3 separate regions of the Homo sapiens genome follow, and regions 2 and 3 are each linked to region 1. Evidence: fine-mapped expression QTL. A gene starts in region 1. Each other region holds a variant in brackets. All regions are shown on one strand. Distances are between the middles of the regions.

Region 1 (4,242 bases):
TTCCTTTATTTTCTGAAGAGGACTTGGGTGCCAGTTTTTTAGGTTTAATATTCAAAGTCAAAGTTGCAGCGGGGGGCGATGGCTCACATCTATAATCCCAGCACTTTGGGAGGCCGAGGCGGGCGGATCACCTGAGGTCGGAGTTAGAGACCAGCCTGGCCAACATGGCGAAACCCCGTTTCTACTAAAAAATACAAAAATTAGCTGGGTGTGGTGGCGTGTGCCTGTAATCCCAGCTACTCAGGAGGCTGAGACAGGAGAATCACTTGAACCTGGGAGGAGGAGGTTGCAGTGTGCCGAGATAGCACCACTGCACTCCTCCAGCCTGGGCAACAGAGCCAGACTCTGTCTCAAGAAAAAAAAAAAAAAATTAGTCGGGTGTCAGGGCAGGCACCTGTAATCCCAGCTACTCGGGAGGCTGAGGCAGGAGAATCTCTTGAACCCGGGAGGAGGAGGTTGCAGTGAGCTGAGATGGGACCACTGCACTCCAGCCTGGGCGACAAAGCGAGACTCTGTCTCAAAAAAAAAAAAAAAAAAAAGGCAAAGTTGCTCCATACCAAGACCAGATTTTTAAAAAGTCAAAGTTGCAAATTTTTAAATATTATGCACTTGCAGCCTAGGAGCTGATTTAATAAGGCAGAGCACCTTTAAGTATCAGTTATGAGTTAAAATAAAGGGAAGGGGGCCAAAAAAAATATGGTTGTGAGTATAAAATGCAAAAATAAAGGTAAAGGTGAGTATTTTGTCAGCCTGTAAAAAAAGCCTCTTTAGTTTTCAAAGTACTTAATTTTTAAAGTACATCCTACATTAGAACCTAAGTCAGCCAGATAACCAAGAATACACATTTACACAGAAATGAAGCACAGCAAAGGTGTGAAAATTAGGGCAGGAAGCATAAAACATGAATCAAAGAATGCAGAAATACAACAGATATAAGCTACAATTAAATATCTCACCGGATGCACACACAGTTTTATATGGAATAATCAAAGCAGCAGTGATACCCATCTTATAAATAAAAATCTAAAAGCCAGAGAAATAACAAGGTTAGAGGATTAATATGAAACAAAATGAGAACTCCAAAGATTTTCTGAAAGCAGAATTACTGTTTTTTCTTCATATTATGTTGCCACTCCAAAGCAAGGGGAAAACTCGCATGAGTAAGAATCTAGAAACCTGAGAAGTTTCGAGAAGAACAGACTCAAACTGGAGTGAAAATAGGCAAAAAGAGTGAGGCATAAGGCTACGACTGGGAGCAAAATGCCAGATGCAAGTCTTGGACACGGAGGGGAGACGAATAAAGCCTTCTTAAGCGGAAGGTGGAGAAACACTGGGGTTGGATTTGGTGGGAGGAAGACAAAACGGAAAAGCACGGCCCAAGAAGCAACGGCAAAGGGAGAACTTAAACAAGATTAGATTGATGCCACAATCGAAGAGTATAAGACCTACAAATCAGATTCTGCCGGGTGGGGAAAGGGCCAGTTCGCGACCGATCAGGTGCGACTAGTTTCCCAAAAGCGGCAAAGATGTAGCTTCGCAGCCCCACCCCACGACAGCAGCTCCTCCCCAAGGAGGACCTCACGAGGTCAACTGCCGGGCTCAGGTTCTCCCCCGGAGCCTAGGTTCCACCCCGCCCCGGCCGTGCGGCACAGAACTGCCTCTCTGGGCCCCTCACCGAACGCTGCAGCTCCCCAAGCCAAAAAGAGGCGCGCTCCTTTCCGCTGGGATCTGGGTCGTGGTAAAGCGCCTGCACTGCCTGGTACACGAGCTGCAATGTCGGCTTTGCTCCTTCCATGGTGGTGGCGGTAGTGGCGGTAGCGACGGCTCTGATTCTTCTCCGGAGGATTCCTCGGTTGCTCCGCCTTCGCGCTTCCTCACTGTCTGGGCCACGGCCGCTCCCTGACTGGCGCCATCTCCTCCTCTTTGGCCGTTACCAGGGCAGAAGGCTCTCCGTGGAAGTTGCCCCCTCGGAAACAGCTATTAGGTCGTATTCAGGTTCCTGGCCTTTTTTCCGGTTTTTCCACTTGATTCTAGACTCTTGAGTCCACAGATTCTGGCGCTCCCGTCTTCAGTCGCTGACTTGCCCTCAGAAGCCTATCTTGGGAGGCCACACACCAGTGTACCTAAGGTTCGTTTACCCGGACCGGAAGCGACAGCACCGATACCTTTGGCACACTTCCGCCTGGTACACTACAAACGGCCTCCTTCCCGGCACGCCTCCTCTTGTCTCCCCGCCCCCTCCCGGAAGTAACCCTGCCGGGCCAGGAGCCGGGAAGAAGAGCCGGTGTTCTCTCTGTTCCTCGCTAGCAGCTTGGGACATTAGCGCCGAGATGTGCCCCATATCTGAGCTGCCTTCAGCTCCTTGGAAACGGATCCAGGTTTTTCCTACCCCTTCCGACTGCCCCATCCCTCTCCAGAGAATCCTTTTCTGCCCTGGTGATCAAGGCGCGTCAATTCAACTCTCCCTAGAGTGGCCACAGTACTGGAGATCCAAAGATGACTTAAGACATGGTACCTACGCTGGCTCTAGTGGAGGAGACAGACACGTAGTCAACTGAACTATTTTACAAACCTGAAATATGTGCCACATTGAGATAAATCCAAAATGCCTAGAATCTTTGTTCAGCTCCCCTTTACTTAGTTCTTAAGCCCAAAAGAGGTCTTCATTCTGCTTACAGCTCCTGGTGCTCTAACTCCAGAGCATTTTGCATACATCTTTAGGGTTATTCTCACATTGAACTGTATTTTTGTGAATGCCTTTCTGTCCGAATCCAATACCAGTGGTCTAACAATTCACAAAAGAAAACAGAAATATTGGAAACTGTACTATGGAGAAATTAGGGACAAAAGGTAACAGTATATTGATATTAACATTGCTGCTAGTCCTTTGCACTAGTAAATAACTGCTATTTGATAAATGATCACAATGTGTAAAACACTGTAGTTACAAGATCTCATTTAATCCGCCTAACAACCTTGCCAAGTATTAATAAAACCCGTTTTAGGCGCTGACACTGACCTACAGCGCCTCAGCTCCAGCGCCATGGCGCCCTCCAGGAAGTTCTTCGTGGGGAGGAACTGGAAGATGAACGGGCGGAAGAAATGTCTGGGGGAGCTCATCGGCACTCAGAACGCGGCCACTGTGCCTGCCGACACCAAGGTGATTTGTGCTCTCGCCACTGCGTATAACGAGTTGGCCCGGCAGAAGCTAGCTCCCAAGATTGCTGTGGCTCCGCAGAACTGCTACAAAGTGACTAATGGGGCCTTTACTGGGGAGATCAGCCCTGGCATGGTCAAAGACTTAGGAGTCACGTGGGTGGTGTGGTCCTGGGGCACTCAGAAGGCGTGTCTTTGGGGAGTCAGATGAGCTGATTGGGCAGAAAAGTGGCCCATGCTCTGGCAGAGAGACTCGGAGTAATCGCCTGCATTGGGGAGAAGCTAGATGAAAGGGAAGCTGGCATCACTGAGAAGGTTGTTTTTGAGCAGACAAAGGTCATCGCAGATAATGTGAAGGACTGGAGCAAGGTCATCTTGGCCTATGATCCCGTGTGGGCCACTGGTACTGGCAAGACTGCAACACCCCAACAGGCCCAGGAGGTACACAAGAAGCTCCGAGGATGGCTTAAGTCCAACATCTCTGATGCAGTGGCTCAGAGCACTGGTATCATTTATGGAGGCTCTGTGACCAAGGCAACCTGCAAGGAGCTGGCCAGCCAGCCTGACGTGGCTGCCTTCCTCATGAGTGGTGTTTCCCTCAAGCCCGAATTCGTAGACATCATCAATGCCAAACAATGAGCCCCATCCGTCTTCCCTACCCTTCCTGCCAACCCAGGAACTAAGCAGCCCAGAAGCTGAGTGACTGCCCCTCCCCTGCACATGCTTCTGATGGTGTCATCTGCACCCTATTGTGGCCTCATCCAAACTGTATCTTCCTTTACTATGTATACCTTCACCGTGTAATGGTCGGGACCAGACCAATCCCTTCTCCACTTACTGTAATTGTTGGAACTAAATGTCACCAATGTGGCTTCTCCTTGGCTGAGAGGTGAAAGGGATGGAATTTGCTCCTGGGTCCCCTAGGCCCTAGTGAGGGGAGGAGAGAGAACCCATCCTCTCCCTTCTTACACTGTGAGGCCAAGCAGAAGCCAGGGGTGCTGCCCTCTCCCACGGTGCCAACGCCTTTGTGTGTTGTGTATGTGAGCCATCCCACATGTGAGGGAAATAAACCCCTGGCACTTAAAA
Region 2 (4,242 bases), 28 kb after region 1:
CAGAGCGAGAATCCGTCTCAAAAAAAAAAAAAAAAAAAAAAAGTTGTAAACAAGGTGTAATTATAATGGATATTGATCGTATTTCTTTATATTAAACTCTGAATACCACAGGTGTTCACAGAATAATAATCTACTTTAGAAAGGAGTTTTACCATTTGCATTAAAAGCTTTAAGGCGAGCAAGACAGCTATGAGTTTGCTCCACTTTACAAATGAATGAGGAAACTGAGGTTTAAAGGTAGTTACTGGCAATAACAGAATTTAGACCAGTTTCTTGATACCAAACCTAATATATATTCCAAGACACTCCCACTGTCTCTTCCCAGTTCTCAAAGAACTATAATAAAATGAAAATAGCTAACTCTGACACTGTTTTCAACATATTCTTCGAACCAGCAGAGAGCTGATTGATGTCATCTAAGGGAAGTGGTTTGGAGCTGGAAAAGTCTCCTTCAGGGCAATCACCTTTTTTTTTTTTTTTTTTTTTTTTGAGATGGAGTCTGCTCTGTCGCCAGGCTGGAGTGCAGTGGCGTGATCTTGGCTCACTGCAATCTCCGCCTCCCAGGTTCAAGCGATTCCCCTGCCTCAGCCTCCCGAGTAGCTGGTACTACAGGTGCGTACCACCATACCCAGCTAATTTTTTATATTTTTAGTAGAGATGGGGTTCCACCATGTTGGCCAGGATGGTCTAGATTTCCTGACCTCGTGATCCACCCACCTCGGCCTCCCAAAGTGCTGGGATTACAGGCGTGAGCCACTGCGCCTGGCCAGGCAATCACACTTTTCAGGATCAGAACTTCCACCCTGAAGGACCACAGGTTCACCCCTGGCAATACACAGCGAGGACCAGACTCTGAGAACAGACTCACATTGGAAAAGGGACATAGGAGGCTGAGGGAGACGCCGGGCTGCCAATTCACTCATTGACCATGATAATTGGGACTGTTACAGGGTCAGCTACTTCTCCCCTACAAGTCTCTCTCTGCAGCATATTCTCTCTGGTCGGTAGGTCGCCATGAAAATGAGAAAGTTGACTGCCAAGTGGCCATGGAAAACACATGGAAATTAGACGAAGCCCCAGGGTTCAGTGGTAACAGGTGAGGCTAAGATAGCCTAGGCCAGTCATCCTATAATAGAGGTGGTCTCACCAACAGGTTACTTACTGCAGAGTACTCACATCCCATTGGTTACAACCTCCTGCCTCCACATCTCCATTATAAGTTGTTTTGTCATTTAAAGGCTGTGATTTCCTTTGTGCCCAATACATGGATGGGCAATGCCTATGTCCACCTCCCAGAAGTGTCCTCTTCCAAGAATCCATGCTAAACAATGCCCCTTCTAACAAACAGATTTTTTTCAATCTTTTAATTTAAACAATCAAATCCTAGGAGCCAGGCTTTTTTGTCACATGCTAATTATATATTGATCTTATTATTAACTTTCTATGATTAGGACGGGCACGGTGGCTCACGCCTGTAATCCTAGCACTTTGGAAGGCCAAGACAGACCGATCACTTGAGGTCAGGAGTTCGAGACCAGCCTGAACAACATGGTGAAACCCTGTCTCTACTAAAAATACAAAAATTAGCCTGGCATGGTGGTGCACGCCTGTAGTCCCAGCTACTCGGGAGGCTGAGGCACAAGAAACACTTGAACCTGGCAGGTGGAGGTTTCAGTGAGCCAAGATCGAGCCACTGCACTCCAGGCTAGGTGACACAGCGAGACTCCATCTAAAAAAAAAAAAAAAAAAATGATTGCTAATTGCCCTCTGATGTAATAATTCCCCTTCCTCTTCTTTTTTTTTTTTTTTTTTTTTGAGACGGAGTCTCACTCTGTTGCCCAGGCTGGAGTGCAGTGGC[G/A]CAATCTCAGCTCACTGCAACCTCCACCTCCAGGGTTCAAGCGATTCTCCTGTCTCAGCCTCCCAAGTAGCTGGGACTACAGGCCTGCACCACCACACCCAGCTAACCTTTTTTGTATTTTAATAGAGACGGGGTTTCATCATGTTGGCCAGGATGGTCTCATGACCTCGTGATCCACCCACCTTGGCCTCCCAAAGTGCTGGGATTATAGGCATGAGCTACCTCGTCCAGCCGGTGTTTTAGGTTTTTTCTGTTATTATCAAACTGAATTCTAACTAATATTCATGATAATTTTATTCCTCTTACTTTTAAGTTCTTGTGGTCCCAAAGTACAATAGTAAATTTAAGATTCTAGGCTGGATGTGGTGGCTCACACCTGTAATCTTAGCACTTTGGGAGGCCAAGGTGGGAGGGTCACTTGAGCCCAGGAGTTTGAGACCAGCCTGGGCAACATAGCAAGACTTCATTTCTATTAAAAAAAAGAAAAAAGAAAGATTCTGGAATGCTTCAGACTCCGTGTTATACAAGCTTTCTGACAGTGTGATGAATCAGGGAGGAGTGAGTTAACAAATTTCTGACCAGACAACTGACCGGAAAAAACAGCTTGTGGAGTGCTCAGTATATCATTTCATTCCTCAGGTTCACGTAACAAATGTTCAGAAGCTCAGAGCATATTTCATTCCCATGCGATTAATCTTACCCCCTGCACTACTTTTGTATCTCCCCTTAGTAACAGGTTCACCCTACCTTCAATGTCTACAGGAGCTACGGAAAGAAATGCAGAACGAAGATAAATCACCCACCAGAATTGTTAGCAAGAGAAGTGCTGGCAGCAATAGGTCCTCTTACAAAGAAGAAACTTAGAATGAAGCTTTTCCCAAACAGCCTGAAAGGTTCTTTTATCCTCCATAAGTAGCTGCTCACCCAATTTTTGACAAATCCTCATTTTTGCTTCAAAAATAAATAGCAAACACTTACCTATATTTACCATATGCCAGGAACTGATCTAATCATCTTACATATATTATTATTATTGAACAGCAATTTAAATTAGGTTTTTTTTTAAAGGTGGTTATTTTTATTTTTTGCAATGCCATGGTTGTAGGAGTGTATGAAGAGGTAACACATCTCCTTTTCCTTGACTATGCTTTTTTTTTTTTTAACCTTCTGCACAAAGGTAAAGGTTTTTGTTAATCTCATAGTTAATGGTATAAAACAGAGGTCATGCCGGGCGCGGTGGCTCACGCCTGTAACCCCAGCACTTTGGGAAGCCTAGGTGGGTGGATCATGAGGTCAGGAGTTCAAGACCAGCCTGGCCAAGATGGTGAAAGCCCGTCTGTACTAAAAACTACAAAAAAAATTAGCTGGGTGCGGTGGCAGGTGCCTGTAATCCCAGCTACTCGGGAGGCTGAGGCAGGAGAATTGCTTGAACCTGGGCAGCAGAGGTTGCGGTGAGCCGAGATCACGCCATTGCACTCCAGCCTGGGCAACGAGAGTGAAACTCCGTCTCAAAATAAATAAATAAATAAATAAATAAATAAATTTTAAGGGATATGGTTTGGAGGGAGCTTTCAGGGTAAAAGTATAGTGACATGACAAAGGGGAGGTGACAGAATATTGTAGAGTCCTTTGTATTCTTTCAAAATAGCTTTACTGAGATATAATTGACATACAGTAAACTACATGTTTATAGTGTAATTGGATAAGATTTGACATACATATACACCCGTGAAACCATGACCACAGTCAAGATAATGAAAATAGGCCAGGCACGGTGGTTCACAGGAATCACTTGAACCCGGCAGGTGGAGGTTGCGGTGAGCTGAGATCATGCCACCGCACTCCAGCCTGGGCGATAGAGTGAGAGGCTGTCAAAAAAAAAAAAAAGATAATAAAAATAAATATCAGCCCCCAAAAGTTTCCTTGTGTCCTCCTGTGATCCCTTCTTCCTGGAAACTTCCCCCAAACTCTCTCCTCAACCCCCCATTGTCCCTTATCTGCTTTCTGTAATTATGGATTGGTTTATATTTTCTAGAATTTTATAGGAATACAATCGTACAATATTTATTCTTTTATTTCCAGTTAACATAGCTTTTATTCAAAAGTCCTTACTCTTGTCTGGTTTATTTCACTTGGTCTAATTATTTTAAGATCTATCCACATTACTGCATGTACTTTAAGTGGGTGAGTCGTACGCTATTTGAATTATCTCTCAATAAAGCTGTTACTAAAAACAAACCACAATGAGATATCACTGCGCACCCATTCGGATGACAAAAATTTAAAAAACAGACAAAAGCAACTGTTAGTGAGGGTAGGGAGAAATTGGAACTCTCATACCCTGCTAGTGAGTGGACTTGTATAATGATGCAGCCACTTTGGAA
Region 3 (4,242 bases), 23 kb after region 1:
TGCGACTGCACTGCAGCCTGGGTGACAGAGTGAGACTCTGTCTCAAAAAAAAAAAAAAAAGATATTTTTATATTTATACATGCATGCACATACCAGAAGTTAGCAGAGACCCCACCCCCACTCCTTCACTGCCTCATTTCTTGGGATTCCCGGCAGAGTTTACACAGATTCCCTGCTAAGGCCACAGGCTGTCGAAATCCAAAACTATCCTTGTAGATTTCTGCCAGCCCCAGTGCTCCTTTTCCCATGGTCTCCCCTCCTGCCATCAGAGCTGCTTGCAAGGAATCCCACGTAGAACTCCCTATCATGTAGATGGAGCAACTCAGAGCATTCATGAGGTATTTCTGGAAATGCTTGGTGACCATTTGGAGGTGGCAGGGAATGGTCACATGGGCAGGTCACAGCTTTTCTGTTCCTATTAGCTTCCTCTTTCCTTCTTTCACCCCTTTCTGGAAGGAGTAAAAGAATCTCTTCTCTTCATCTTGTGTGTAGAATTCAGGATGGAAGCCTGGCTTAAGGGATATTTCCTCCTTTTTGGCACAGTCTCCGAAAATGTCAACGTTTCAAAGTGTTTGAAGGCAATACATTGACACAATGGTTGTTGAGACTATGAGAAAGAATATTTGAGAAAGCAGTGTGTCTTAGTCCATTTGGGCTACGATACCATAGACTGGGTGGCTGATACACAACAGAAATTGATTTCTTACAGTTCTAGAAGCTGGGAAGTCCAAGATCAAGACACAGGCAGATGCAGTGTCTGGTGAGGGCCCATTTCTTGGTTCATAGATTGCAGCGTCTTGCTGTGTCTTCACATGGTGGAAGTGGCCGTGAGGTTCTCTGGGGCCTCTTTTATAAAGTTACTAATTTTATTGATTAAGTCTCTGCCCTCATGACCTCATCTCTTAAAACTCCCACTTGCTCATGTCATCATATTGGAGATGAGGTTTCAATGTATCACTTTTGGGGGCACACAAACATTCAAACCATAGCACAGTGTGAAAGTAACACAGTGAGAAAGCTAGAGAAGTTTTCAAAAACTGGTGTGTTTTTAGGTGCCTGCCAGCTACCACCCCCAAACAGTGCAGGGAGGCTGTTTCCTTTCTTGGGTGTTCTACTGACCACTAATTTTTACCTCTAACCCAAACGTTTATTAAAATATTTTCTTCCAGTTTTCATCAAACTTGAACTGTTGCTCTGTAAAAGACAATTTTAAAAGAATTAAATAATAAACTACAGATGAGGCATAATATTGCAAATCACATACATGGCAAAGAATTTGCATCTGGAATATATAAAGAACTCCCAAAATTCAGTCATAAGAAATGGACAAACAACCCAATTTAAAAATGGGCAAAAAACTTGAACAGACAATTCACCAAAGAAAATATATAGAAGACAAATAAGTACATGAGAAGATGTTCAACATCATTAGCCATTAGGGAAATACAAATTAAGATATCACTACACACTTAATAGAATAATAAAAATAAAAAATAACAGGCCAGGAATGGCAACTCACGTCTGTAATCCCAGCACTTTTGGAGGCTGAGGTGGGCAGATCACTTGAGGCCACGAGTTCAAGACCAACCTGGCCAACATGGTGAAACTCCATCTCTACTAAAAATACAAAAATTAGCTGGGCCTGGTGGTGCACACCTGTAATCCCAGCTACTCAGGTGGCTGACGCACAAGAATTGCTTGAGGCTGGGCGCGGTGGCTCACACCTGTAATCCCAGCACTTTGGGAGGCCAAGGCAGGCAGATCACAAGGTCAGGAGATGGAGACCATCCTGGCTAACGCTGTGAAACCCCGACTCTACTAAAAATACAAAAAGCTTAGCTGGGTGTGGTGGCGGGTGCCTGTAGTCCCAGCTACTCAGGAGGCTGAGGCAGGAGAATGGCGTGACCCCGGAAGGCGGAGCTTGCAGTGAGCCGAGATGGAGCCACTGTACTCTAGCCTAGGCGACAGAGCGAGACTCCTCGCTCGAACGCTTGAACCTGGGAAGTGGAGGTTGCAGTGAGCCAAGATTGAGCCACTGCACTCCAGCCAGGGCAACAGGGCAAGACTCTGTCTCAAAAGAAAAAAAAAAGATATTAGGAATAAATAGTGCTGACGAGAATGTGAAACAACTTCAACTCATACATTTCCGGTAGGAATGGAAAATGGTACAGCCTCTTGGAAAACAGTTTGGCATCTTATAAAGTTAACCATATACCTACCACATGACCCAGCAACCCCACGCTTACGTATTTACAGAAATGAAGACATA[G/C]GTGCACACAAAATTCTGCATGTGAATGTTTATAGCAGCGCTATTCATAATTGCCCCCAACTAGAAATTATCCAGATGTTCTTCAGTGGCTGAAACTATAAAGAAACTTTTTATTTTTTTTTTGAGATGGAATCTCACTCTGTCGCCCAGGTTGGAGTGCAGTGGCGCTATCTCTGCTCACTGCAAGCTGTGCCTCCCTGGTTCAAGCGATTCTCCTGCCTCAGGCTCCCGATGAGCTGGGATTACAGGCACCCGCCACCACGCCCGGCTAATTTTTATATTTTTAGTAGAGATGGGGTTTCACCATGTGGGTCAGGCTGGTCTCAAACTCCTGACCTTATAATCTGCCCACCTCGGCCTCTCAAAGTGCTGGGATTGCAGGTGTGAGCCACCGCACCCGGCCAAGAAACTTTTTGCACTGGTACATTCATACAATGAGATACCAGTCAACAATGGAAAGAAACAAATTATGACACTGGTAACAACTGGGATGATCCTCAGAGGCATTACACTGAGTGTGAGAAGCCAGTCTCAAGACTTACATATTGACTAGGTGCAGTGGCTGACACCTGTAATCCCAGCACTTTGGGAGATCAAGGCAGGAGGATCACTTGAGACCAGGAGTTTGAACCAGCCTGGGCAACATAGTGGGATCCCATCCCTACAAAATATGCAAAAATTAGCCATACGTGGTGGCACATACCTGTAGTCCCAACCACTCTAGAGGCTAAGGTGAGAGGATCACTTGAGATCAGGAAGTCAAAGCTGCAGTGAGCTATGTTTGTGCCAATGCACCTCCAGCTTGGGCAACAGAGCAAGATCCTGTCTCAAAAAAAAAAAAAAGTTACACATTGTATGATTTTATTATATGACATTCTCGAAAAGACAAAACTATAGTGTTGAAGGACATATTAATGATTTCTAGGGATATGGAATTGAGGGGAGGATATAATTACAGAAAGATAGCATAAAGCCAAGCACGGTGGCTCATGCCTATAATCCTAGCACTTTTGGAGGCCAAGATGGGAGGATTGATTGAGCCCAGGAGTTCGAGACAAGCCTGGGCAACATGAGACCCTGTCTCTGCAAAAACCTTAAAAAATTAGCTGTGTGTGGTGGTGTGCACCTGTAGTCCTAGCTACTTGGAAGACTGAAGCGGGAGGATCACTTGAGCCCAGGGAGGTCAAGGCTGTAGTGAACCATGATTATGCCACTCCAGCCTGGGTGACAGAATGAGACCTTGTCTCAAAAGAAGATAGCCTAAGAGAGTTTAGAGGGGTGATGAAGCCATTCTGTATGCTGATTGTGGAGGTGGTTAAAAGAATCTGCATGTGTTAAAACTTGTAGTACTTTTAAAAAAGGGTCAATATTGCTGTATGTTAATTTCTTTGTTAATTTTTTAAATTTTAATTTTTTTATTTTACTTTTTGGACACAGGGTCTTGCTTTGTCACCTAAGCTGGAGTCCAGGGGCATGTGATCACAGCTCACTGGCAGCCTTGACCTCCTGGGCTCGAGCAATCCTCTCACCTCAATTCCCTGAGTAGCTGGGACTATGGGCATGCACCACCATGCCCAGCTAATTTTTGTATTTTTAGTAGATACAGGGTTTCACCATGTTGGCCAGGCTGGTCTCAAACTCCTGACCTCAAGCGATCTGCCTGCCTCAGCCTCTCAAGTGCTGGGATGACAGGCATGAGCCATCACCCCCAGCCTTCTTTGTTAATTTTTTAATAGAAATAGGATCTTGCTATGTTGCCCAGGGTGGTCTCAAACTCCTGGCCTCAAGTAATCCTCCCAAATCCTTGGCCTCCCAAAGCGCTGGAATTACAAGTGTGAGTCACCTCGCCTGTTCTGTGTGTTAATTTATAAGGCAAAAATTTTAAAACTTCATCCAAAGGAATACAGAGCTAAGCAAAGAATTCTCAAAAAAGAAACACAAGATGGTGGTCACAAGTTTCCTCTGGGGAAGGA

What was found. PIP is the estimated chance that this variant, and not a neighbour inherited with it, causes the effect.
Region 2: its variant is the best candidate, but not a certain one, in a credible set for the expression of TNPO3 in whole blood (TOPMed, PIP 0.66).
Region 3: its variant is the best candidate, but not a certain one, in a credible set for the expression of TNPO3 in whole blood (INTERVAL, PIP 0.59).

The regions. Positions count from the first base shown.
Region 1 is chr7:129,052,976-129,057,217 of GRCh38, forward strand. It overlaps TNPO3 (transportin 3), which reads right to left and starts at 2,136. Exons shown (of 23, transcript NM_012470.4): 1 at 1,676-2,136. The coding sequence starts at 1,795. It also overlaps the pseudogene TPI1P2. RefSeq lists enhancers at 1,669-2,168, 2,980-3,274 and a silencer at 2,980-3,274.
Region 2 is chr7:129,081,283-129,085,524 of GRCh38, forward strand. No RefSeq gene overlaps it. Among named protein-coding and RNA genes, the nearest start is that of TNPO3, 28 kb to the left of the region's middle. The variant G/A (reference allele first, on the strand shown) is at 1,859.
Region 3 is chr7:129,075,704-129,079,945 of GRCh38, forward strand. No RefSeq gene overlaps it. Among named protein-coding and RNA genes, the nearest start is that of TNPO3, 23 kb to the left of the region's middle. The variant G/C (reference allele first, on the strand shown) is at 2,270.